Linked DNA regions of Homo sapiens. The protein of the gene in region 2 interacts with the protein of the main gene of each other region in a biochemical or structural test. Each region holds a gene or a part of one and is shown on either strand. Other genes may lie near its edges.

The links. The genes of interacting proteins can lie anywhere in the genome.
Region 1: the proteins of SMARCA4 (region 2) and MYOCD form a complex in vitro, tested with the Homo sapiens proteins (one study listed by BioGRID).
Region 3: of the proteins of SMARCA4 (region 2) and CHFR, one has a biochemical effect on the other in vitro, tested with the Homo sapiens proteins (one study listed by BioGRID).
Region 4: the proteins of SMARCA4 (region 2) and SIN3B form a complex in vitro, tested with the Homo sapiens proteins (one study listed by BioGRID).

The regions. Positions count from the first base shown.
Region 1 is NC_000017.11:12,759,890-12,763,389, reverse strand, and holds part of MYOCD (myocardin), read right to left. Parts: intron 3,257-3,500; exon of another isoform or gene 2,741-3,256; coding exon 2,683-2,740; exon of another isoform or gene 318-2,682; coding exon 1-317. UniProt on the Homo sapiens protein: Smooth muscle cells (SM) and cardiac muscle cells-specific transcriptional factor which uses the canonical single or multiple CArG boxes DNA sequence. Acts as a cofactor of serum response factor (SRF) with the potential to modulate SRF-target genes.
Region 2 is NC_000019.10:11,030,530-11,034,029, forward strand, and holds part of SMARCA4 (SWI/SNF-related matrix-associated actin-dependent regulator of chromatin subfamily A member 4), read left to right. Parts: intron 1-200; coding exon 201-364; intron 365-2,760; coding exon 2,761-2,988; intron 2,989-3,237; coding exon 3,238-3,336; intron 3,337-3,500. UniProt on the Homo sapiens protein: ATPase involved in transcriptional activation and repression of select genes by chromatin remodeling (alteration of DNA-nucleosome topology).
Region 3 is NC_000012.12:132,877,606-132,881,105, reverse strand, and holds part of CHFR (E3 ubiquitin-protein ligase CHFR), read left to right. Parts: intron 1-3,451; coding exon 3,452-3,500. UniProt on the Homo sapiens protein: E3 ubiquitin-protein ligase that functions in the antephase checkpoint by actively delaying passage into mitosis in response to microtubule poisons.
Region 4 is NC_000019.10:16,877,624-16,880,849, forward strand, and holds the end of SIN3B (paired amphipathic helix protein Sin3b), read left to right. Parts: coding exon 1-16; intron 17-559; coding exon 560-767; intron 768-873; coding exon 874-1,104; 3' UTR 1,105-2,726; downstream 2,727-3,226.

The DNA.
Region 1 (3,500 bases), on a different chromosome or scaffold from region 2:
ATGTGCATTGAAGAGGTCTTCTGCAGCCTTCCCAGAGAATCCATCCATTATCCCATCAAAGTGAGGCTCTTCGCTCCCAATTTTTAGAAGGGTGACATCACTCATCTTTCCTAGGGGGCTCTGGGAATTTAATAAGACTTCAAGATGCTCATCACTGTCGGTGGCATAGGGATCAAAGGGGATCTGGCTGCCTGAAGAGGCTTGTTCAAAGGAAGCCGAGGGCTTGGTGAGGACAGCAGTTGGACTTCGGGAAGATCTGGGTATCTTTGGGACTTTTTGAAGACATGAGTGATCCTCTCTAGCGTCTGCTGGCATTTCTGTGGGCAATACACGATGTGACTTGTTAAATCACTTCAAATTGAGCATGCCACACAATATGAGTGAGTTACACTTAGATACAGAAGATGGCCACGCTTCCCTGGTCACCGCTCACCACCCAGTCTCATCTCTAAGCTGCTCTATCAATCTCCAATTCATCTTCCCTCTGGTTTTTCCCAAACCCTTTCCTCTTGGGAATTCCACTCTGTGATTATTAAACTCTCTTCTCTGAAGGTTCCTGGCCTACTCCTCTGACCCCTGGTAGTCCCTTGAGGACACTGAGTCCATCCCAACACCATCAGTGAGGGCCTGAAGATGAGGGACCAGGCGCCATGCCATTGCCACTTTCTGATTGCTACTCCCCCCGCTTCTGATGACAACTCAGCAGTTTTGGGTTTTGAGGGTGACAGCAATGCCTCACCCCTAGCCTCCTGGTCACTCCCCCTCATCTACTGAAAACTCTGCTTCCTACTCCATTGCCTTTTCCCCACTTGAACCCTTCTCATTCTGTAACCTGAGCATCCTTGGAAATCACAGTGTTCATGCTGGCCTCTGAGCTCCCGACTTCCTCCTCAACTCCAGTGATTCCCCCACTGCCACTCTGTCAGACACACCTTGGATTGTGTCATCTCCAAATACTGCATCCCTCTGAAAGCTCACTTTCAAGCTATATTTTCTATTCTCTGTCCATCCTCTCCCAACCCTCCAAGCCACTTATTATGTACCTTGTAACAATAATTTCCCAACCATTTACAGTCACACTAATCCATAGACTCTACTATGTTATCACTGTCCACCAGCCCCTCTGGTCTTCACTTCTTTCCTTGTCTAGCCTGTATTTTTGGCAGAACCCCACACCTGGAGGAACCTGATCATCTGCCTTCGCTGAGCATGCTCTGGATCAGCAGAACATTGCAAGAGAAAAATTAAACAACTAAGCTGACTTGGTTTCACTTTAGATTTCTGAGGTCAGACCTACAACTGGCATTTAAGACTGCAAAACAACCCAGCTGTGTTTCTCCAGAAAACTCAGTTCATTCATGATTAAGTCATAACTGCTCTTCTTCCCCTGAATCTTCCACACTCCCCTTCTGCATCCTCACGCTTTTCTGGCCTTGCCACATATTTCATTAAAAATATACAAGGGCAGGCTGGGCGTGGTGGCTCACGCCTTTAATCCCAGCACTTTGGGAGGCCTAGGTGGGCAGATCACGAGGTCAAGAGATTGAGACCATCCTGGCCAACATGGTGAAACCCCGTCTCTACTAAACATACAAAAAATTAGCTGGGCGTGGTGGCACGCGCCTGTAGTCCCAGCTACTTGGGAGGCTGAGGCAGGAGAATCGCTTGATCCCAGGAGGCGGAGGTCGCAGTGACCCAAGATCCCGCCACTGCACTCCAGCCTGGCGACAGAGTGAGACTCCGTCTCAAAAATGTGTGTGTGTGTGTGTGTGTGTGTGTGTGTGTGTGTGTGTGTGTGTATGGGCATCTGATATGAACTCTTCTCATCTTTCCATTACAGAACTCATTTACATACATATGTTTGTACCCATCTCTTCCTTCTTCCCTCTTGCTACAATGGAGGAAAGGTCTGTTCACTTGCTTGTTGTCTGTCTCCCTTACCAGACTGTAAACTCCATAGGAATCAGGATCTTGTCTGATCATAGCACGGAGACTATGACAACGCCTGGCTACCCCTTCTCTGAGTCCTTTGCTACCTCCGTCTCTGAAATTTTAAATGTTTTTGGCTTAAGGATTCCTCCCTGAGTGCTTTTATTTTGATCTACACATGCTCCTTAGGTCATCTTATTCATTTGTGTGGTTTAAAATTCTAGGTACACACTCCATAATTTTTTAAGTAAATAAATGAACAAATTAAAAGGTGACAAAAAGAACATGCTGATTATGTTTTATTGCTAGCATGTATAACATTTAAGCATGAATGAACCATCCAGTGGAAGGTTGCTAATTGAATTTCACTTTGAGTAGGTAGCACAAAATGTTCATTATCTGCTTTTTTCTTTTATTATAATTGAGAAGGTAGGGGCATTGAGATTAGAACATAGAAAGAAGAAGTGCAGCAAGAGAAAACACTTAAGGAAACAAGGATTAGGCTGAAACATGAAAACTATTAAAATGATTGCTGAAAAATGCTCCTAGGACAAAGGCAGTGAGGAATCATCCACTAAGCCTTCTTTTATCAGCTCTAAAAATGTGCGAGAAGCTCAAAGGAAATGGCTCTCCCTGAGGACTACCTGGTACATCCAACTCACAGTGTGCATCTGATCTTGGTACCGAGAGTTCATTCCTTAGAGTTCATGTGGGCTCAGAATGTCCTAATGGACAGGACACAGGCAGTCTTACCTCCGCTTTCAATAAGCACGTCCAGGAGTTCATCCATCTGCTGACTCCGGGTCATTTGCTATTACAAATTAACCAAAGGAGGACAGACAATTTAGAAGGTGGTTATCTCCGTAGGAAATCATTAGAAGCAGCACTGCAAGATTTTGAACTAGGTTTGGTCAAGGTATTTTTTTTTCCAATTGTGGCAAAATACACATAACTTTAAATTTACTATCAACCATTTTTAAGTGTACAGTTAAGGGGCATTAAGTACATTCACACAATTGTGTGACCATCACCACCATCTGTCTTCAGAATTCTTTTCATCCTGCAAGACTAAAATCGTGTACCCATTCAACCATAATTTCCCACACCCCATCCTTTAGCCCCTGGCAACCGCCATTTTCCTTTCTGCCTTTACGAATTTGACTATTCTATCTAAGTCCCTCATAGAAGCGAATCGTACAGTATTTATTCTTTTGCAACTAGCTTATTTCCCTAAGCGTAATGTCCTTAAGGTTGATCTATGTTGTGACATGTGTCAGAATTTCTTTTTTTTAAAGACTGAATAAAATTCCATTGTATAGATATAACACATGTTGTTTATCCATTCATTTGTCAATGAACATATGGGTTGTTTCTACCTTTGGGCTACAGTGAATAATGCTGCTATGAACATAGGTCTATTGCCTAAAAATTTTTAAACCATGTCTGATTAAGCTTCAGTAGTAATTTTAGGCAGATAATCTACTGAATGAAACAGTCTACTACAACAGGAGAAGGGAAAAAGAAGGCAGAATGCTTTCTAGCACAGGGTACTTTAGAGTCGGTTCAGTTGT
Region 2 (3,500 bases):
GAGACGTTTTGTGGTGAAACACTGGAAATCCAGTTATTCGCCAGTGGCCCACAGGCCCGTGTGGAGAGTGCGGAGCCAGGGATCTGGGGATGCTGGCAGGTGCTGATCCTGCTCCTGCTCTCAGAAGCAGGTGTTCCTTGGTGTCCCCACTCTACCCCTGAGGTCACCCCGCTGACCCTGTTCTCCTCTGTGCCCGTCAGGAACCACGAAGGCGGAGGACCGGGGCATGCTGCTGAAAACCTTCAACGAGCCCGGCTCTGAGTACTTCATCTTCCTGCTCAGCACCCGGGCTGGGGGGCTCGGCCTGAACCTCCAGTCGGCAGACACTGTGATCATTTTTGACAGCGACTGGAATCCTCACCAGGTAAAAGCGGGCCGGGCCCCAGGTCGAGGAGAAGGAAGGGGGTGCCTGCAAAACCTCGAGGAGACGGCCCTGGCTTGAGGGTCCTCCAGCCTCCTCCACATTGTCTTGGACCCCAGGAGCCGGGAGGAGCTGCACCCATATCTCCATAGGTCATCAGGGAGAAAAGAGGCGGGGTCCTCCTGTTTCCCAAAATACAAACAGCCTTTCCCTCTGATTGGGAAAGCAGTGTATAAGCCATCCGTCGGTTTGGTTTTTCTTAAATCTTGGAATGGCACCCATGAGGAGGTGGAAAGTATCCTGATCAATCTGCGCCGTCACTGTGGGGCGGCCCCTGCAGTGTGCCCTGTGAGCACACACACTGGCGCTTGTTCAGACACAATTGGGGGTAAACTCCATGCCACTTCGTTTACTTCCTCCTCTTGTTCCATAACCATGTACCCCTCATGGGCCTCGGCATCGGTGGATACCAGGTCATGCTGTTACATAGCTACAAGAATTTGAAAATGAGTTAAACTTTTCTCTGTGTTTCATTATAAGACTGATAAGTTCTTATTGTTTTTAACATGTAAACACCAGTGACAGTCAGGAGTCCCTTTTCCCTTCCTCTCCAACCGTGCTCTCTTCTGAGCCTCTGCCAGCCCATCTGCCTTCGCACATGTATGTACTGAGATTAACACAGATGCGGCGTGGCCTAGCATGTGCCTCTTCCACCAAGCAGTGGGTGTCAACCGCCGAGTGCACATCGGAAGCTACCCAGCCATCTAATCGGCCACCAGGCGTCCCGGCAGATGGCCACCCCTGGACGTCTGCTCTCAAACTCTGGTTGGCAGGCATCCGTCTTTTCTGTTGATCAGCCTGGTCACCAACCCAGCAGGGTCCCTCTTTCTCTCAGAGTGCTTGTGCAAACACCCTAGGTCTGCGCAGCCCTCAGACATGGGGTCGCTCCACCCCAGACATTGTCCTCTTCGTGTTCTGGTTGCTACTGCCAAAGTGGTTTCACTCCTACGCTGGGGTGTGAATGTACCCTGCCCTTCCCTGCAGCGTGAGGGCAGCAGCGTTCTCAGTGTGTAAATTGTCGCTTGTCTGATGGGTGAATGCCGTGGTGGTCACTGGTGGCCCCTTTTACGATCAGGCTGGGGTGTAGCTTCTGCCCAGACCCTGGTGACCAGCCAGTTTCTTAGGAGGTGGTTGAGTTGTGTGTCCCCGTTGGCAGGCCGGCAGCAGGCGGAAGCTGCACCTCAGGGCTGGGGGCGCGTTGGGGAGGGCTGGCCCTGCCAGGAAGTGTGCTGACAGGGCAGGAGGGCTGAGCGGCAGACACAAGGCACTCCTGGTCCCCACCAGCTGTGGCCTCTGCCACCCCATGGGTGCCAGTCTTAAGTTTCAGAGCATCACTGGTACTCACCCTGGTCCTGCAGCTCCTGGGCCCAGAGACAGGATTTCGTGTTAGCCTCCTCGTACTGTGCTGGGGTGATGATAAAACTAACAACCCAGGCTGGACGCAGTGGCTCACACCCGAAATCCCAACATTTTGGGAGGCCGAGGTGGGTGGATCAACTGAGGTCAGGAGTTCGAGACCAGCCTGGCCAACATGGCGAAACCCTGTCTCTACTAAAAATACAAAAATTAGCCAGGCATGGTGGTGCATGCCTGTAGCCCCAGCTACTCAGGAAGCTGAGGCAGAAAAATCGCTTGAACTTCGGGAGGCAGAGGTTGCAGTGAGCTGAGATCGCACCACTGCACTCCAGCCTGGGCGACAGAGCGAGACTTTGTCTCAAAAAAAAAAAAAAAGAAAAAAAGCCCATCCACGGCACCTGCATTGTTGGGAGCTAACTGCACCAGTCACTGGGCCACACTCCTGGTGCTTATTCACTCATTCGAGGTATGCAGTAGCCACGGGTTGGGCCCCATGTAGGCTGAGGGAGTTTTGAGGCTCACAGAGGTGAGACCTGGTTCCGGTTCTGTGTGCACTGTGAGAGTGGCAGGGCCCACAGCCAAACCAAGCACTGCCACAACACGGCCGAGCTTCGGCCCCCTGTTGTAAATGGTGCTCGACTGTGTAGGTCCACGCTGTGGGGAGCTGTGCCGCTGCCACGGGAGCTGCTTGAGAATATAATCCCCTGGGGGGTTGGTGCTTTCTTCCCGAATATCTGTGGGGTCCCAATAAGGTAGAAGGTGGCACTTCTGGAGGAACGTGATGAGAGTCCCCTTCCCCCGAGGGACACATGGCGGCCCAGGCTCCACCAGCTCTGTTTTCATGCGGCGGCAGGTCAGGCTGGGCAGAATTGTCAGGCCGAGGGTGGCACGCACAGCACACCTCTCCAGCTAGTGTCAGAGGCCACCTTCCCTTTTATGACCTCCTGGGCTCCTTTGGGACTGACTGGCACCTCTTCCCCCAGGACCTGCAAGCGCAGGACCGAGCCCACCGCATCGGGCAGCAGAACGAGGTGCGTGTGCTCCGCCTCTGCACCGTCAACAGCGTGGAGGAGAAGATCCTAGCTGCAGCCAAGTACAAGCTCAACGTGGACCAGAAGGTGATCCAGGCCGGCATGTTCGACCAGAAGTCCTCCAGCCATGAGCGGCGCGCCTTCCTGCAGGCCATCCTGGAGCACGAGGAGCAGGATGAGGTGAGCCCAGCACCGGCCCCGACCCCTCCCCAGCGTGAATGGTGGACGCGTGAGCGGCTTTCATTTTTGTTTTTTTACCTTTTTTGCACTCTTATTTTTTTTGCATCCCTTTGGAGTAAAGGGAGTGTGGGCTGAACGGAAAGAGGATGAGTACTTGCTTTTTCTTTGAAGTGGTTTTTTTTTCTAAACTGCTGGTGAAAGACGCCGGATTGACAGCCCTGGAGACTGAAGTCCTCTATTTATCCACAGAGCAGACACTGCAGCACGGGCAGCGGCAGTGCCAGCTTCGCCCACACTGCCCCTCCGCCAGCGGGCGTCAACCCCGACTTGGAGGAGCCACCTCTAAAGGTGAGAGGGGTAGTTCAGTCTCCATGCCCATTCAATCCTCGGCTTCTCGGCTGAGACGGCCAGCAAGGGCCCTGGTCCCACGGAGCGTGCGTGTGCGTGTGCGTGTGTGTGCCTTTCGCTGCCGTGTGGGTCCCCATCCACCGCAGCCGTGCCGGGACCACCAG
Region 3 (3,500 bases), on a different chromosome or scaffold from region 2:
TAGTCGAGATGGGGTCTCATCCTGTTGGCCAGGCTGGTCTCGAAGTCCTGGTCTGAAGTGATCCGCCCGCCTTGGCCACCCAAAGTGATGGGATTATAGGCGTGAACCACCGCCCCCAGCCTTACTTTTTTTGTTGTTGTTGAGCCAGAGTCTCGCTCTGTCGCCCAGGCTGGAGTGCAGTGGCGTGATCTCGGCTCACTGTAACCTCCGCTTCCTGGGTTCCCACCATTCTCCTGCCTTAGCCTCCCGTGTAGCTGGGATTATAGGCGCCCGCCACCATGCCTGGCTAAGTTTTGTATTTTTAGTAGAGACTGGGTTTCACCATGTTGGTCAGGCTGGTCTTGAACTCCTGACCTTGTGATCCGCCCGCCTCGGCCTCCCAACGTGCTGAGATTACAGGTGTGAGCCACCACGCCTGGCCCAGAATTGACTTTTTTTTTCTTTTTTTGAGTCGGAGTCTTGCTCTGTTGCCCAGGCTGGAGTGCAGTGGCACCATCTTGGCTCACTGCAAGCTCCACCTCCTGGGTTCACGCCATTCTTCTGCCTCAGCCTCCTGAGTAGCTGGGACTACAGGCGCCCGCCATCACGCCCAGCTAATTTTTTGTAGTTTTGGTAGAGACGTGGTTTCACCATGTTAGCCAGGATGGTCTCGATCTCCTGACCTTGTGATCCGCCCCCCCCTTGGCCTCCCAAAGTGCTGGGATTACAGGTGTGAGCCACGGCACCTGGCCCACATTTTACTTTTGACAAACCTCAGCTTATTATTATTATTTTTTCCTGGTTTGTGCTTTTTATATCCTATCTGCGAAGTCCATGCAAGACCCAACGGCACTAAGATTTTTGCCTGTCTTTTCCACTGGAAGTTTCATAGTTTTAGATTTTACATTTGTCTCTGTCTGGCCATCCTTACACAGCCACAATACTGTATTGTTTACTATAGCATGATGGTAAGTCAGTTAAGTAATATGAGTCTTCCAGCTTCATTCTTTTTCAAAATTGCTTTGGTTTTTCTACACGTTTTTTCTGTGAACTTTAGAATCAGCTTGTCAGTGTCTACAAGCCCTCTGGGATTTTGACTGGAATTGCATTGAATGTATGAAACAATCTGGAGGACAGCTGACATTTTAACAATACTGAGTCTTCTGATTCACACACCCATAGGTCAGTGATGGGAGCAAGGCTCAGGCTAAAGCAGATTCAGGGTGTCTTTCTGTGTGGAACGTTTAGGAAAAGTATGTTTGCATGCCACTGTCTCCTGACCAAACCCTTCGCTTTTTTGTCTTCTAGTATCTTTATGTATCCTTATAGATTATTATAGGCAGTAATGATTAATGATGAGATATTAAAACGCCTTTGTTCTTTTGATTTAAGGAGAGGGCAAGTATTGAGGATTTTCCCTCTTGCTTTTGTATTCAGGGCCGGGCGCTGGTGGCTCACGCCTGTAATCCCAGCACTTTGAGAAGCCGAGGCGGGCATATCACGAGGTCAAGAGATCGAGACCATCCTGGCCAACATTGTGAAACCTCATCTCTACTAAAAATACAAAAATTAACTGGCCCTGGTGGTGTGCGCCTGTAATCCCAGCTACTCAGGAGGCTGAGGCAGGAGAATCGCTTGAACCCGGGAGGCAGAGGTTGCAGTGAGCTGAGATCGTGCCACTGCACTCCAGCCTGGGCCACAGAAAGAGACTCCGTCTCAAAAAAAAAAAAAGAAAAAAAAAATCCCAAAGTGTCAGAATTACTGTATTCAGCTATAGATGCATCCCTGTATATAAGATGCAGTTTCTTATACGTGTACAAATGCCTATCGCAGGCCAGGTGCGGTGGCTCAAGCCTGTAATCCCAACACTTTGGGAGGCTGAGGCGGGTGGATCAAGAGGTCAGGAGTTCAAGACCAGCATGGTGAAACCCCGTCTCTACTAAAAATACAAAAAATTAGCTGGGTATGGTGGCGCATGCCTGTAGTCCCAGCTGCTCAGGAGGCTGAGGCAGGAGAATGGCTTGAACCTGGGAGGTGGAGGTTGTGGTGAGCCGAGATGGTGCCACTGCACTCCAGCCTGGGCGACAGTGCGAGACTCCATCTCAAAAAAAAAAAAACAAACAAAAACAAAAAAAAAAACAAATGCCTATCACAGTTGGCTCAGTCACTTTTTCTGTGACTGTCATTGCTTCAATTTTATGTTGATTTATGAAACCTAAGTTTACACAGAAAAGAAATTAAGGACTAAATTAAGATACTGAAGAATTACTTAAGCCCCTGAGTTTTTTTTTTTCTTTTTTTTTTTTTGAGACAGAGTCTTGCTCTGTCACCCAGGCTGGAGTGCAGTGGCGCCATATCGGCTCACTGCAAGCTCCTCCTCCCGGGTTCTCGCCATTCTCCTGCCTCATCCTCCTGAGTAGCTGGGATTACAAGGCGCCCGCCACCACGCCCGGCTAATTTTTTGTATTTTTAGTAGAGATGGGGTTTCACTGTGTTAGCCAGGATGGTCTCGATCTCCTGACCTTGTGATCTGCCCGCCTCGGTGTGAGCCACCGGACCTAGCCAACCCCCTGAGTTTTTTTAAAGTTCTAATAATACTCATCAGGTTAGCTGTGTATGCAAGCATATTGTAAAATTGCTTTTTTTTTTTTTTATTTCCAGTTGGAGTCTAGCTCTGTCGCCAAGGCTGGAGTGCAGTGGCGCGATCTCAGCTCACTGCAACCTCTGCCTCCTGGGTTCATGCGATTCTCCTGCCTCAGCCTCCCAAGTAGCTGGGATTATAGGCAACCGCCACCATGCCCAGCTAATTTTTGTATTTTTAGTAGATATGGGGTTTCACTGTGTTGGCCAGGCTGGTCTCGAACTCCTGACCTCGTGATCCATTCACCTCAGCTTCTCAAAGTGCTGGGTTTACAAGTATGAGCCACTGCGCCTGGCTGTAAAATTGCCATTTAAGAGGCTGTGTGTAACTGGAGGTATTGATGGGTGTCTTTGAGAGGGTGGGGATTCAGAAAGGTTCAGGATGGGCCGGGCGCGGTGGCTCACGCCTGTAATCTCAGCACTTTGGGAGGCCAAGGTGGGCAGATCATGAGGTCAAAAGATCGAGACCATCCTGGCTAACATGGTGAAACCCCGTCTCTACTAAAAACACAAAAAATTAGCCAGGCGTGATGGCGGGCGCCTGCAGTCCCAGCTACTCTGGAGGCTGAGGCAGGAGAATGGTGTGAACCTGGGAGGCGGAGCTTGCAGTGAGCCGAGATGGTGCCACTGCACTCCAGCCTGGGCGACAGAGCGAGACTCCGTCTCAAGAAAAAAAAAAAAATTTCTTTATGTCTTTCTTGGTCAAGTGTTTTTTTTTACATATGTACAATGGGGATCCTGAGTTGGAACCACATACTTTGGTAAACAAAGTGCAGTAGTGTTCACAGTTACCACGATCATATCCCGTGTTGACCCACCCTCTCTTTTTTAGGTTGCGACCTTTCCTTCCCCAGCAATAAACTGGTCTCTGGAGATCACTG
Region 4 (3,226 bases), 5.8 Mb from region 2:
CTGTGTTCCTGCAGAGGTAAGAGGCCCTGAGATGCATGCTCTGTTCCTTCCTTCCTGGGCCCAGGGAGTGTCCCCTTTGTCCTGACGGGGGCTGGACCATGGCACACTGTCTGGGAGCACTTAGTAGGTGCCTGCTGTGTGCTGAGGCAGGCCCTGCCCTTTTGAGGCTTGTGGTTTGCAGTGGAGGGATTAGTAACCCCAGGACGGTGAGGTGTAGGAGGGGCAAGGCCAACCCCACGATGCGTCAGTGGGTGAAGAGTGAATGCCCGGACTGGAGGGAGACGCTGCCAGAGCTGGTGGGGCCAGGCCAGAGGCGGGTGGCTGTGGCAGGACCCTGGACCACCTCAGGTCGGGCTAGGATGGCACCTATGGGACCAGTGGGGGCTGCTGGTGGGTGTTCAGATCTGGGGGCATTTCTTGTTGCTTCCATTTGCTTTCTGTGGACCCCTGGGAGGTAGCACATCTTCTGATGGTCCCAGGCCTGGGGGTTTCCCAGCCTGCAAATCCTCCTCCCACAATGCCGAGAGCCAGAGTCCATTCCACCTCCTTTCGCCCCCAGGAACCTCAAGAAGTTCCGCCGCCGGTGGCAGAGCGAGCAGGCGCGGGCCCTGCGCGGTGAGGCCAGGAGCTCCTGGAAGCGGCTGGTGGGCGTGGAGAGCGCCTGCGACGTGGACTGCCGCTTCAAGCTCAGCACTCACAAGATGGTGTTCATCGTGAACTCCGAGGACTACATGTACCGTCGCGGGACCCTCTGCCGGGCCAAGCAGGTGCCAGGGGAGGCCTGGGCTGCCCCGACATGCCCCTCCTCACCCCAAGTCCTGGGGCCCTGGGGGTCCAGCCCTCAGCTGCCCTGACACCCGGCCTCTTCAACAGGTGCAGCCCCTGGTCCTGCTCCGCCACCACCAGCACTTTGAGGAGTGGCACAGCCGCTGGCTGGAGGACAATGTGACGGTGGAGGCGGCTAGCCTGGTGCAGGACTGGCTGATGGGTGAGGAGGACGAGGACATGGTACCCTGCAAGACGCTGTGTGAGACAGTGCACGTGCACGGCCTGCCCGTGACCCGCTACCGCGTGCAGTACAGCCGCCGCCCGGCCTCGCCCTGACCCGCCCTCATGGGCACCGGGCAGGCGCCTCACAGAGCACAGACGTGCCCTCGGCCTTGGTCGTGTCGGGGCCGTTTTCTTGAACGACGTGAGAGGCATCTCCCAGCCCCTCTGCTGCCGGACAGCGCACTCCAGGGCAGGACGCCGCCCCCGTGGCTCCCGGTCTCCTGTGGGCCTGCTGTGTGCCAAACCTGAGCTACCTGCACCCGAGCCCTGGGGCTCAGCCCCACCACAGGGGCGGGTGGACGTGCTGGCCGAGGAACAAGCAATCATGTTTGCGTCCCCGTCCGTCACATGTGCCAAATCCCTGGCAGGCAGATGGCTCCTGCCCCATATTCTTGCCGTGTCTTGGAAAAGTCACAGGTGACAGCCCTCCTGAGGCCCACACTTTGGAGGGGGTCCATGTCCAAGAGACCCTGACAAGGAAGGAGTTGAGCCCTGGGTAGGCTTGCTTGAAAAGTGAGTCCTTCCAGAATATTCTCAGAGCTGCCAGAAACATCATCTGAGGGTTTGGGCATCAGCTCTGCCTGGCTGGTGTTCAGGCCCTCAGTCACTTTGGAAGTGAGAAGAACCCTTCAGCCAAACCTTTGGGATCCCATTTTGAAGTCCAGAGCTGGAGCAGGCGGGCAGTGCCCTGGGAGACCCCGCTCTGGATAAGACACCCAACCCCAACTCCAGCAGCTGGACTCTGGGCCCACAAGGGGAGGGACCCCAGCCAGTATTCCCTCAGAGCCGGCACGACCCTGCTGTGGGGCGGCGGGCCCAGTCGTGTTCCTGCAGTGGGCACCCTAGGCGTATGTGTATACACGCACAGATATTTATTCCTTTCGCTTTTAGTGGTTGTTATTTCTGTAGCAGCCAAGTCCTGCGGCTCCCTGGGGCTGAGATCTCCCTTTGTGGAACTCCGAGAGCCGCCCTGACAGTCCCAGCCGCCACCCAAGGAGCCCCATCCGCCCACCCACCCTGGGACCCACGCGGCCACTCCAGGGATCATTGTTGTCCTTTTGTGAGGGGCTGAGGCGACTGTCCCATGGAGGCATCCAAGGCTTTCTGTGCCAAGAATCCCAAGTGACTGGGGCTGGGGACCACTTCTCCAGGCCTCTCTCCCCGACCATGAGAGCCCCTGGCCCTGGCCCCTGCACACCAGTAGGCCCAGAATAACCGCCACCCTTGCCATCCTGCAACAGCTGGACTCAAGTTTCCAGGAAGTGGAGATGTGTTTCTAGAAGTTTCCTGTGGAACCTGGAGGCTCCTGATGCCTTTGACTCCAGGCTGGGCGATTCCGATGCTGACCCGTCCTCCTGGGCTCCCCACCCCCGCTCCCCAAGTGTCACACAGGCACTTTGTACACATCCTGGTTTTCTAAGAAGGGAACTTGCCATCAAGATTCCTGTACCAGGCCCACGGCCGTCTCGGGCAGAGCCACCTGGGCCCCGGGTGCAGCCGGAGACCCCGCCGAGCCCCTCCTCCCAGTATTCCCATCCCCGCATGCTTCTAGGGAGCGCCTCTTTTCCGTTCTTGAGGAATTTCTGTTCTGGGGCTTGTCCTTCCTTTGCAGCTGTTTTGAATGTAGTTTTCCTTTTCTATTTATTTGCACATTAAAGTTAATAATTGAATATTGACATCAAGCCGTGAGGGTGTGTTGGTCTTCCTGTGAGAGCCTTGCTGACTTCCTGCCACCAGGTCAGTGGGCTGGACCCATGAGAGCAAGGGGTGGCTGGGTGTGCCTACCTGGGACCAGGGGAGTCGAAGCCCCTCCTTGAACCAAGATCATCTCACACCCTGCACCTGCCCCGCCACGACATGGGAGTGTCTTCTAGAATATTCTTTCCCCATTCCATTTGCACATTTAGTGGGAATTAGAAGCGTCTCCTTCGCCCGAGTGTCTCTCATGCAGAACCCAATTTAAAGATCATGGTGTTTGCTCTAAGGTGTTTGTTCTAAGCTTCCCATGCCCAACCTATCCGTCCAGGCCCATGCCTGCCCACCCACCCCACACGACCACCCTCTGTACTCCTTGGGGCCCCACCCACTTCCTGGCTTTCACCATCATTTTCTCCTCATCTCCTGCCCCCTGTCTGCATCCCAAGCTCCACACCTGCTTCCGGGTAGCAGAAGCCCC